Linked DNA regions of Homo sapiens. The protein of the gene in region 1 purifies or fractionates together with the protein of each later gene. This does not show direct contact. Each region holds a gene or a part of one and is shown in the gene's direction. Other genes may lie near its edges.

Evidence for each region. The genes of interacting proteins can lie anywhere in the genome.
Region 2: the proteins of ZNF829 (region 1) and SMAP1 purify together in Homo sapiens (affinity purification with mass spectrometry; one large-scale study listed by BioGRID and IntAct). This does not show direct contact.

The regions. Positions count from the first base shown.
Region 1 is NC_000019.10:36,889,418-36,893,545, reverse strand, and holds part of ZNF829 (zinc finger protein 829), read left to right. Parts: intron 1-327; exon of another isoform or gene 328-728; intron 729-1,074; coding exon 1,075-2,054; 3' UTR 2,055-4,128. UniProt on the Homo sapiens protein: May be involved in transcriptional regulation.
Region 2 is NC_000006.12:70,852,013-70,857,306, forward strand, and holds part of SMAP1 (stromal membrane-associated protein 1), read left to right. Parts: intron 1-527; coding exon 528-652; intron 653-4,666; exon of another isoform or gene 4,667-4,846; coding exon 4,847-5,018; exon of another isoform or gene 5,019-5,294. UniProt on the Homo sapiens protein: GTPase activating protein that acts on ARF6. Plays a role in clathrin-dependent endocytosis. May play a role in erythropoiesis.

The DNA.
Region 1 (4,128 bases):
AGCAATCATAAGTTAAGTGTCAGTCCCATTTTAATAAACAAGGAAAAGAGGGCTCAGAGGTTGCCTTAAAGCATAGAACTGGGGCTCACTGTTTATATGTTGACATGGAGTTCCATTCTTCTCATAGAGTACATTTCATCCTATCTTAACTCTCTTGTGTCTCAAACTTGAGCCACCTTCCTTCTCAATCACTGCTATGACTTGAATTATTCATTTCTTTCTCCCAAGGTCAACATCACAGAATTCCAGAGCAAATTATTTTCAGTGAGTTCCTAGCCCATATCATGCTGTATGCACAGAAGAGATGTACCTGTCTACTCTTCCCACCAGTTGTGTTCAGCATATTAGATTTGTCGGAGGCTGGTGATTTGCCAGTATACCATTGCACAGTCACTGAACTCCACCCGCCCCCGACATTTAAACCTTTCAACACATTTGTTATTCTTAACAGTCCTTTCATGTAGGTCTGACAGTTATCTACGAATTGCAAAACATACAGTATCATACTCTGTGCATGTGAGCATATGTTTATGAACGTGTATATAATTAGAATATCTCACGCATGGTGCATGCCCTGGAGCAGAAGCGGCATCCTGCTGGCCTGTCCTCCTCCATGGCCCTCCAGCTTAACCCCTGCCTGGGCATGCTGATGGCCTTGCAGTCGGAGCTCCACAAGCTGTACGACGAGGAGACACAGAGCTGGGTCTCAGGCAGCGCCTGTGGGGGATCTGGGGTGGGGGCAAAAAAAATTTTTTTTTTTTAATTAGAATCTCTCTATAATATGGAGGATGGTGCTGAACACTGTGTATTCACCAAGGCTTAAGGTGACTCTGGTTCAGACCAAAATTTGAGGATCATAGAGGTCATCTACTTTCTGAATCCACATCCTCAGCTTCTTTTATTACCTCTCCTAATGTCTGTGCTTTTCTTGTCAGTTTTACAGATTGCCTCTCCACCTTTGAAAACTGTGTAATTTCTCAGATATTCTTTTCAGTTTAATTCTCCCATTTCTTTTTTAGAAGTTTTAACTTGCCCAGAATAGGAAAATTTATTTGCCTTTGTATTTTCTTTCAGATCTGGAATCAATGTGTGAGACCAAAATATTATCTCTAAAGAAGAGACATTTCAGTCAAGTAATAATTACCCGTGAAGACATGTCTACTTTTATTCAGCCCACATTTCTTATTCCACCTCAAAAAACTATGAGTGAAGAGAAACCATGGGAATGTAAGATATGTGGAAAGACCTTTAATCAAAACTCACAATTTATCCAACATCAGAGAATTCATTTTGGTGAAAAACACTATGAATCTAAGGAGTATGGGAAGTCCTTTAGTCGTGGCTCACTCGTTACTCGACATCAGAGGATTCACACTGGTAAAAAACCCTATGAATGTAAGGAATGTGGCAAGGCTTTTAGTTGTAGTTCATATTTTTCTCAACATCAGAGGATTCACACTGGTGAGAAACCCTATGAATGTAAGGAATGTGGAAAAGCCTTTAAGTATTGCTCAAACCTTAATGATCATCAGAGAATTCACACTGGTGAGAAACCCTATGAATGTAAAGTATGTGGAAAAGCCTTTACTAAAAGTTCACAACTTTTTCTACATCTGAGAATTCATACTGGTGAGAAACCTTATGAATGTAAAGAATGTGGGAAAGCCTTTACTCAACACTCAAGGCTTATTCAGCATCAGAGAATGCATACTGGTGAGAAACCTTATGAATGTAAGCAGTGTGGGAAGGCCTTTAATAGTGCCTCAACACTTACTAACCATCACAGAATTCATGCTGGTGAGAAGCTCTATGAATGTGAAGAATGTAGAAAGGCCTTTATTCAGAGCTCAGAACTTATTCAACATCAGAGAATCCATACAGATGAAAAACCATATGAATGTAATGAATGTGGGAAGGCCTTTAATAAAGGCTCAAATCTTACTCGACATCAGAGAATTCACACTGGTGAGAAACCCTATGACTGTAAGGAATGTGGAAAGGCTTTTGGTAGTCGCTCTGACCTCATTCGCCATGAGGGAATTCATACTGGTTGAATGACAGTAAAGTAAGACCATTTTGTTAACCTTTATAATAATTTTTTTAAAACAGGTAAGGAGAACAAATTAGGATACATATTATCAAAGGTTCTCCTATGTATTCGTTTTTAAACGATACGATAACAAAGTACCAAGTACCAAAACCTTGGTGGCTTAAAACAAGAGAAATTTATTCTCTCATAGTTTAGAGCCTGGAAATCTAAACTCAAGGGTGCTGATCGTTTTGGTTCCTTCTGAGGACTCTGAGGATCTGTTCTATGCCTTTTTCCTAACCTCTGTTAACAGCTGGCAGTCCTTGGCATTCCATGGCTTTTACATACACCATTCCAATCTCTGCCTCCATCTTCACATTGCATTCTCGCTGTGTATCTCTGTGTATGTCTTTTATTTGGACACCAGTCAGGTTAGATTGGGGTTACCTGGTGACCTCATCTTAACTTGATTATATCTGCCAAGACCCTGTTTCCAAGTAAGGTCACATTTACCGGTACCAGGGGTTAGGACTTCAGCATATCTTTTTAGGGGATACAGTTCAACCCATAATACCCTGTTAGAATGATTTTGTCTAATATATTTGTAATTTCCTTTTATACATAAGTTGTTAGTCAAATTTATTTTATTTTATTTTATTTTGAGACAGAGTCTCGCTCTGTTGCCCAGGCTGGAGTGCAGTGGTGTGATCTCAGCTCACTGCAACCTCCAGCTCCTGAGTTCAAGCGATTCTTGTGCCTCAGCCTCTCAAGTAGTTGGGATTACAGGCATGCGCCACCATGCCCGGCTAATTTTTTTTTTTTTTTTTTTTGTATTTTTAGTAGCGACGGGGTTTCACCATGTTGGCCAGGCTGGTCTTGAACTCCTGACTTCAAGTGATCTGCCCGCCTCAGCCTCCCAAAGTGCTGGGATTACAGACGTGAGCCACCGTGATGGCCAAAACAGACTTTATACCAACAAAAATTAAAAAGGACAAAGAAGGTCATTTATAATGATAAAGGATAAATTCAACAAGAAGATAAAACAATCCTAAATATGTATGCACCCAACACTGCAACACCCAGATCCATAACACAGATACTACTAGACCTAAGAAAAGAGATAGACAGCAATACAACAATAGCAGGGGACTTCACCACTCCATTGACAGCACTAGACAGATCACTGGGACAGAAATCAACAAAGAAACTCTGGACTTAAATTGGACTCTACACCAAATGGACCCAACAGACATCTGAAGAACATTCTACCCAACAACCACAGAATATATACTCTTCTCTTCTGTGCATGGAACATTCTCAAAAATAGGTCATATACTGGACCACAAAGCAAGTATCAATAAATTTTAAAAAAACAAAATCATATCTAACATCTTCTCTGACCATAGTGGAATAAAACTAGATATCAATACCAAGAGGAACTCTCAAAACAGATACATGGAATTTAAACAGCTTGCTCCTGAATGATTTTTGGATCAATGATGAAACTAAGGTGGAAATTTAAAATTTTTTGAAATAAATGAAAATAGAGACAAAACACATGAAAACATCTGAGATACAGCAAAAGCAGTGCTAAGAGAGGATTTTATAGCATTAAATGCCTACACCAAAAAGATAGAAAAATCTCAAATGAATAGCCTAACGTCACATCTCAAGGAACTAGGAAAAAACAAAACAAACTCAACCCAAAGCTGGCAGAAGAAAAGCAATAACAAATATCAGAGCAGGCAAAAATGAGACTGAGAACAAAGGAATGCAAAAGATCAATAAAAGAAAAAGTTGGTTCTTTGCAAAGATAAAACTGACAGACCACTAGCTAGATTAACCAAGAAAAAAAGAAGATTCAAATAAATACAATCAGAAATGATAAGGTGATATTATAACTGATAACACAGACATATAAAATATCAGCAGAAACTATATGCACATATTAGAAAACCTAGAGGAAGTGGATAAATTCCTAGAAACACATAACCTTCCAAGATTGAACCAGGGAGAAATAGGAATCCTCAACAGACTACTGAGTATTGAAATTGAATCAGTAATAGAAAAAAATCTTGCAAAAACAAAAAGCCCAGGAC
Region 2 (5,294 bases), on another chromosome or scaffold:
AAACTTATTTCCATGGTAGGTAAAAATGATATTATCTCCAAAACACACACACCCTCACACATACATTTATGGAGAGGGATTATTAATAAGTGTGGTATCAAATTCCACCTTAGCCCCTTATCTCAAAAGTAGTTTTTACCTCATAAGGTTATGAGGATTAAATGAGTTGATACATGTGAAGTACCCAGAACAGTGCCTGGCATATAGGAAGCACCATAAAAATCTATGATCTTATTAAAAAAAATTAGGGTGCAAAATAATGTGAATAGTATGATACCATTGGTTAAAAAGGAGGTTTGGATATATACCTAGAAACCAGTGGATAAAGAATATTTCTGGGGGAATCAACAAAACTGGAAATGGTTTCTTTGGGAAAGGGGATCGGGGGTAGGTAGAAGGAGAACAAATGTTTTACCAACTTTTGAACTGTTCTTTTTTTTTAACCATATATCAATTTTTAAAATAATGCCATGTTTCAAGTAATTTAAGATATTCTACGTTAAGACGAGAATCTATATTCTTTTCAGATGGCCCTGCTGTGGCACCAGTGACCAACGGGAACACAACGGTGCCACCCCTGAACGATGATCTGGACATCTTTGGACCGATGATTTCTAATCCCTTACCTGCAACTGTCATGCCCCCAGCTCAGGTATGTGATAAGAATATGGTTTTATATGGTCACTGCTTATTTCCTTTTTGAAAAGTTTCAAAATTTCAATTTTGGAAGAATTGTTTCTGAGCAGTAACTGATTTAAAAGTCTCCTGTTCTTTAGGCTAGAGTTTAGCAAACTAAGCCAGCAGCTTGTTTTTGCAAATAAAGTTTTATTGGCACACAGCCACTCCCACTGGTTTAGGTACTGTATGTGGCTGCTTTCCTGCTACAAAAGCAGAGTTAAATATTAAAAACAGAGAATGTATAGCCCACAAAACCTAAAATATTCACTGTCTTTAAAGTTCTAACCCTTGCTTTAGGGAAACAACAGTATTTAGAATGAACAAGTGGAAAAACCCTGACTACCTCAACTTTCCTGAGATCAACAAGGTCACTTACTTCAGAGCTTTTAAAACTGTGGCTGTTTGTAAATATTGACTGCAGAAGTTCTAGCAAATTTAGTACTGTCTTTTTAAAATAAAGGCAAAATGAAGGTAAATTATGTTTTAAGTTAGCCTTAAAATCTACCTTGCTTTTTTTTTTAAGTGATTTTTTAAAAATCTAGAACAGTAATAATAATGATCGGGATATTTTAATAAAAGTATTAATGGTGAAGAAATTTTGAATTGCCTTCTTAACATTACATGGAATTTTTGTAATGTGAACTGTATGAACTTTCAGGAAACAAACTACTCTTAAGCATACAACATTAAGATTCTATCTTAAGTTTATACTTTACAAATAAACAAGCAGTTTGTGCAGCATAATTTTTGAGATAAAATATTTCCTTTTCCATAGAAAAACTGAGTCAAATCTGAATTGTTCTGGTAGACAGTTTTAATAAGAAAAAGTCAATGTCTTATAAGGCTAGGAACATATTTCTGTTGCACATATTTATTGTTATTATGATAGTCATTATATAGTTACCATTAGAATGGAACAAGTAGATTTCTTAGGAATGATTAAATGGATCTTTATCAAAATTGTCTGCAGCAGTAGTGTTTATTTTCAGCAAAATAGCTTATTTTATGGCTTTGCCCCTTCTTCCCCTCCTGTAACACACATAAAAAAGAGAATATTGTTACTGTTATTTCAATTAAGATTAATTACCTTACAAATTGGTACAGGCATAGGTGTACATGTGACAAAATTGTCTAATATTGTGTCTTTGGAAAGAAGCATTTAGGATATTTGACAACCAGAATGTGAAAAGCCATTTATTTTTAGTCTAGCATTGTAGTGCGGCTGTTATACCTGCTAGACTTATTTAGCACTGTCACTGGGGTCTGACAGTTGCTTTGCAACTGCTTAAGAGAGTTAGATCCCACCTCTGAGGTTTCAGTGTACTTCACGTGTTCTGTTCTGTATTAAAGCAGCAAGTAGAACAATGCAGACTTCGTTTAATTCTTAAGCACAAGTAGTGCCATGACAAGGAGTGTAGCCTCTGGCTTTAAGAGGGGTGGCAGCTGGCCTTCAGACTTTAGGCATTCTGAGCATTACCTGGTAGGACATAGGGTTAATTTTTAAAATCATATCTAATACTTCTTTTGGAACACTGTTATGTTGAGCACTGGTTAGACTGTACAAGTTATGTTGAGCCCTGTAAAATATTTGGTGAACAGTAGTATCTTTCGTCTAAACTTCATGTAGAGATTAAAATCCAGACATATTTGGCCAGGTATGGTGGTTCATGCCTGTAATCCCAGCACTTTGGGAGGCTGAGGTGGGTGGATCACCTGAGGCCAGGAGTTCAACACCAGCCTGGCCAACATGGTGAAACCCCATCTCTCCTTAAAATACAAAAATTAGCTGGGCGTGGTGGCGTGCGCCTGTAATCCCAGTTACTCGGGAGGCTGAGGCAGGAGAATTGCTTGAACCCGGGAGGCAGAGGTTGCAGTGAGCGGAGATCACGCCATTGCACTCCAGCCTGGGGGACAAGAGTGAGACTTCGTCTGGAAAAAAAAAAAAATCCAGACATATTTTCAAAATAATGCCTTTGAAAATGGGGGATGGTGCTGAAACTACAGATTCTATGCATATATTGCTACCATGTAATTTAGTCATTTTGGTGGGTTTTTAATATGTGAAGTTGAGCTCAAACTAGTTGTGGACACCAAGATTTTGAATTCTTCTGAACCCTGTATTCTTTCACTCCTTGTGTTATTTTCTGAGTATATACAAATTCTAGTACAATATTTTCTAACTTATGAATATGAAATAGATTGATTTTACCATCTGCCTTACCTGTCTGGGGTCTAGTCTTTCTTAAAGGGGTTAGTTAGAAATACTTAGCTGACAGGAGTGTACCTGTGTTTTGGGGGCTGGAGAGGAACAGTTCCAGAGTCTTCATTGTTGACATGGAGAAACCCCTTTCCTGTTCTTTCATATACATATACATATACATATACATATACATATACATATACATATACATATACATATACCAACAGTACCTAGACATACACAAGGGCTAAGTCCTGTTTTTTCTTGGTTAAGCCCTTGGGTCCCAGAAGGCCAGAGAGCCTTCGATTAGATGCTCTGCAGCTTCCTGAAGTGTAAAATGAGAGGCAGAAGTTGTTTCCCTTTTATCCTGGGGTCGTAGTGCTGGCGAGTGGAGCACCAGAAAGTAAGTGGACATTTGAGTGCTTACTAGTCCTGCTGATTGGTTTGGCTGTTTTTAGACTGTGTCCTTGTTGAGGTAGATATTTCATATTATGATGTTTACAGTATGTGAATATTAGGCTGCTCTACTATGAGAGTGGAATCATAGCTTCCCAACATTTTGGGTTTTCTTATAGTTGTCTCTTATCCACAGGGAATAGACCCCAGGGTTTTCAGCAGACTTTTAGGTTGAACAGATACTAAGTGTGATAAAAAGATCACTTAGTGATGTAGTTGCTTTGTTTTATAAACAATATTAACAATAAACACCAAGTACTTAATCCAACCATTGTGCAGAACACTTTTGTGATCATTAAGCTTATCCCAAGTTTATAGGAGAGAGACTGAAAGGAGAAGTAAAGTAACATGTCTGAGTGTACCACAGAAAGTCATGGGGGCAGGCTCTAGTCCTGGCAGACAGGCTCCAGCCCATGCTCTTAGCTCTATGATCTGCTGCTGCTTCATTGGTAGCTTAGATATATTTTATTCAGGGGTATTGTGATATTTAGTATTCCATGATATCTAATTTCTTACATATTTGAATTTTTGGAAAATTAAGCGGCTTTTTGTCGCTTACAATTCTTGCTTAGTCATAAGATTCAAAATACTGTGTAGTTTATAAGTACAATGTTTGGATGGTAACTTATTGCATGGTGTTCTAGGAGGACATTAAATGTTTGAATTTAATTTCCACTTGCAACTCACCTTATTCTGTAGTTTGAGAAGGATCAGCCAGCTTTTACTAGTCTTCATAGAATTCTTTGAAACTCTCTTCATATTCAAAACAAGTCCATATAACATGTGAATGTGATTTAATGTTTAGTGACTACGGAGATGATTAAGGTTAGCAGTTGTGATTGTATAATAGTGTGTGCAAGATATGAGATTGAGAATATTTTATATTAAATATCTACATGTTTATTTGTATTTGTGTTCATTTGCCCCCTTGTCCAAAAGTGAAGGGCAGGATATGTTCAGACAATAGATGGTCAAAGTTTTGCTGTACCTTCATTTCTGGATAGATTAGAAGCAGTCTAATATTGTAGTTAAAACTGATTAGATGTATAAAAATCCTATGATACAGGTTTTGAAAAGATAAAACCTTTTAAGTAGCCATTGCAAATCCTCTTACAGTCTGTTGTAGTTGTAGAAATGTTCTTTATTCCAAAGGATACCAGTTTCTTGAAGCAGTAGTTGCTATGGAGTGGTGGTCCTCTCATCTCTAACTATTGTTGAGCCCCAGGATTTGATGAGCAAAAACTTGGTGTCACCTTAGGTAGTAAATGCAACTTACTGTGAAAATGCTTCAGTCTACCTACATTAACAGATTCAAATTAAGAAGTACTGTCTTGATTGTAGATGTTTTTATATGGGCTTGGGCTTGTAAGTGATCCTCTTGAATGGCACCATTTTACCTTCTACAATTGTTTGATTCCTATCTAATTTTATAACTTTATTTGGATTTTAAGTAATGGATAAGCTGCGCTTTACTATGCAGAATTTGATAGCTTATTTTGGTGTTTGTCTCAGGGGACACCCTCTGCACCAGCAGCTGCAACCCTGTCTACAGTAACATCTGGGGATCTAGATTTATTCACTGAGCAAACTACAAAATCAGAAGAAGTGGCAAAGAAACAACTTTCCAAAGACTCCATCTTATCTCTGTATGGCACAGGAACCATTCAACAGCAAAGTACTCCTGGTAATGAATTTTGATATCTGCTTTCAGTGACATTACTAGAAGTACATCCTTTGTAATTATATAATAAGATCAATTATATATCTTTTATTGTTCCATGTAGTGAGTGCTTTTGTTGTTGCAGTTTATACAACTATGAAGCCGAAATGAATGAGCATTAGAATTAAAAAATTAAGAGGCATGTACAGGATTCACAGAACTTTATTTGGAATTAACAAGCTGTTCATAGATCACTAAATGTTGTTTCACAAGCTTATAGAACATGGATTATCTTTGATG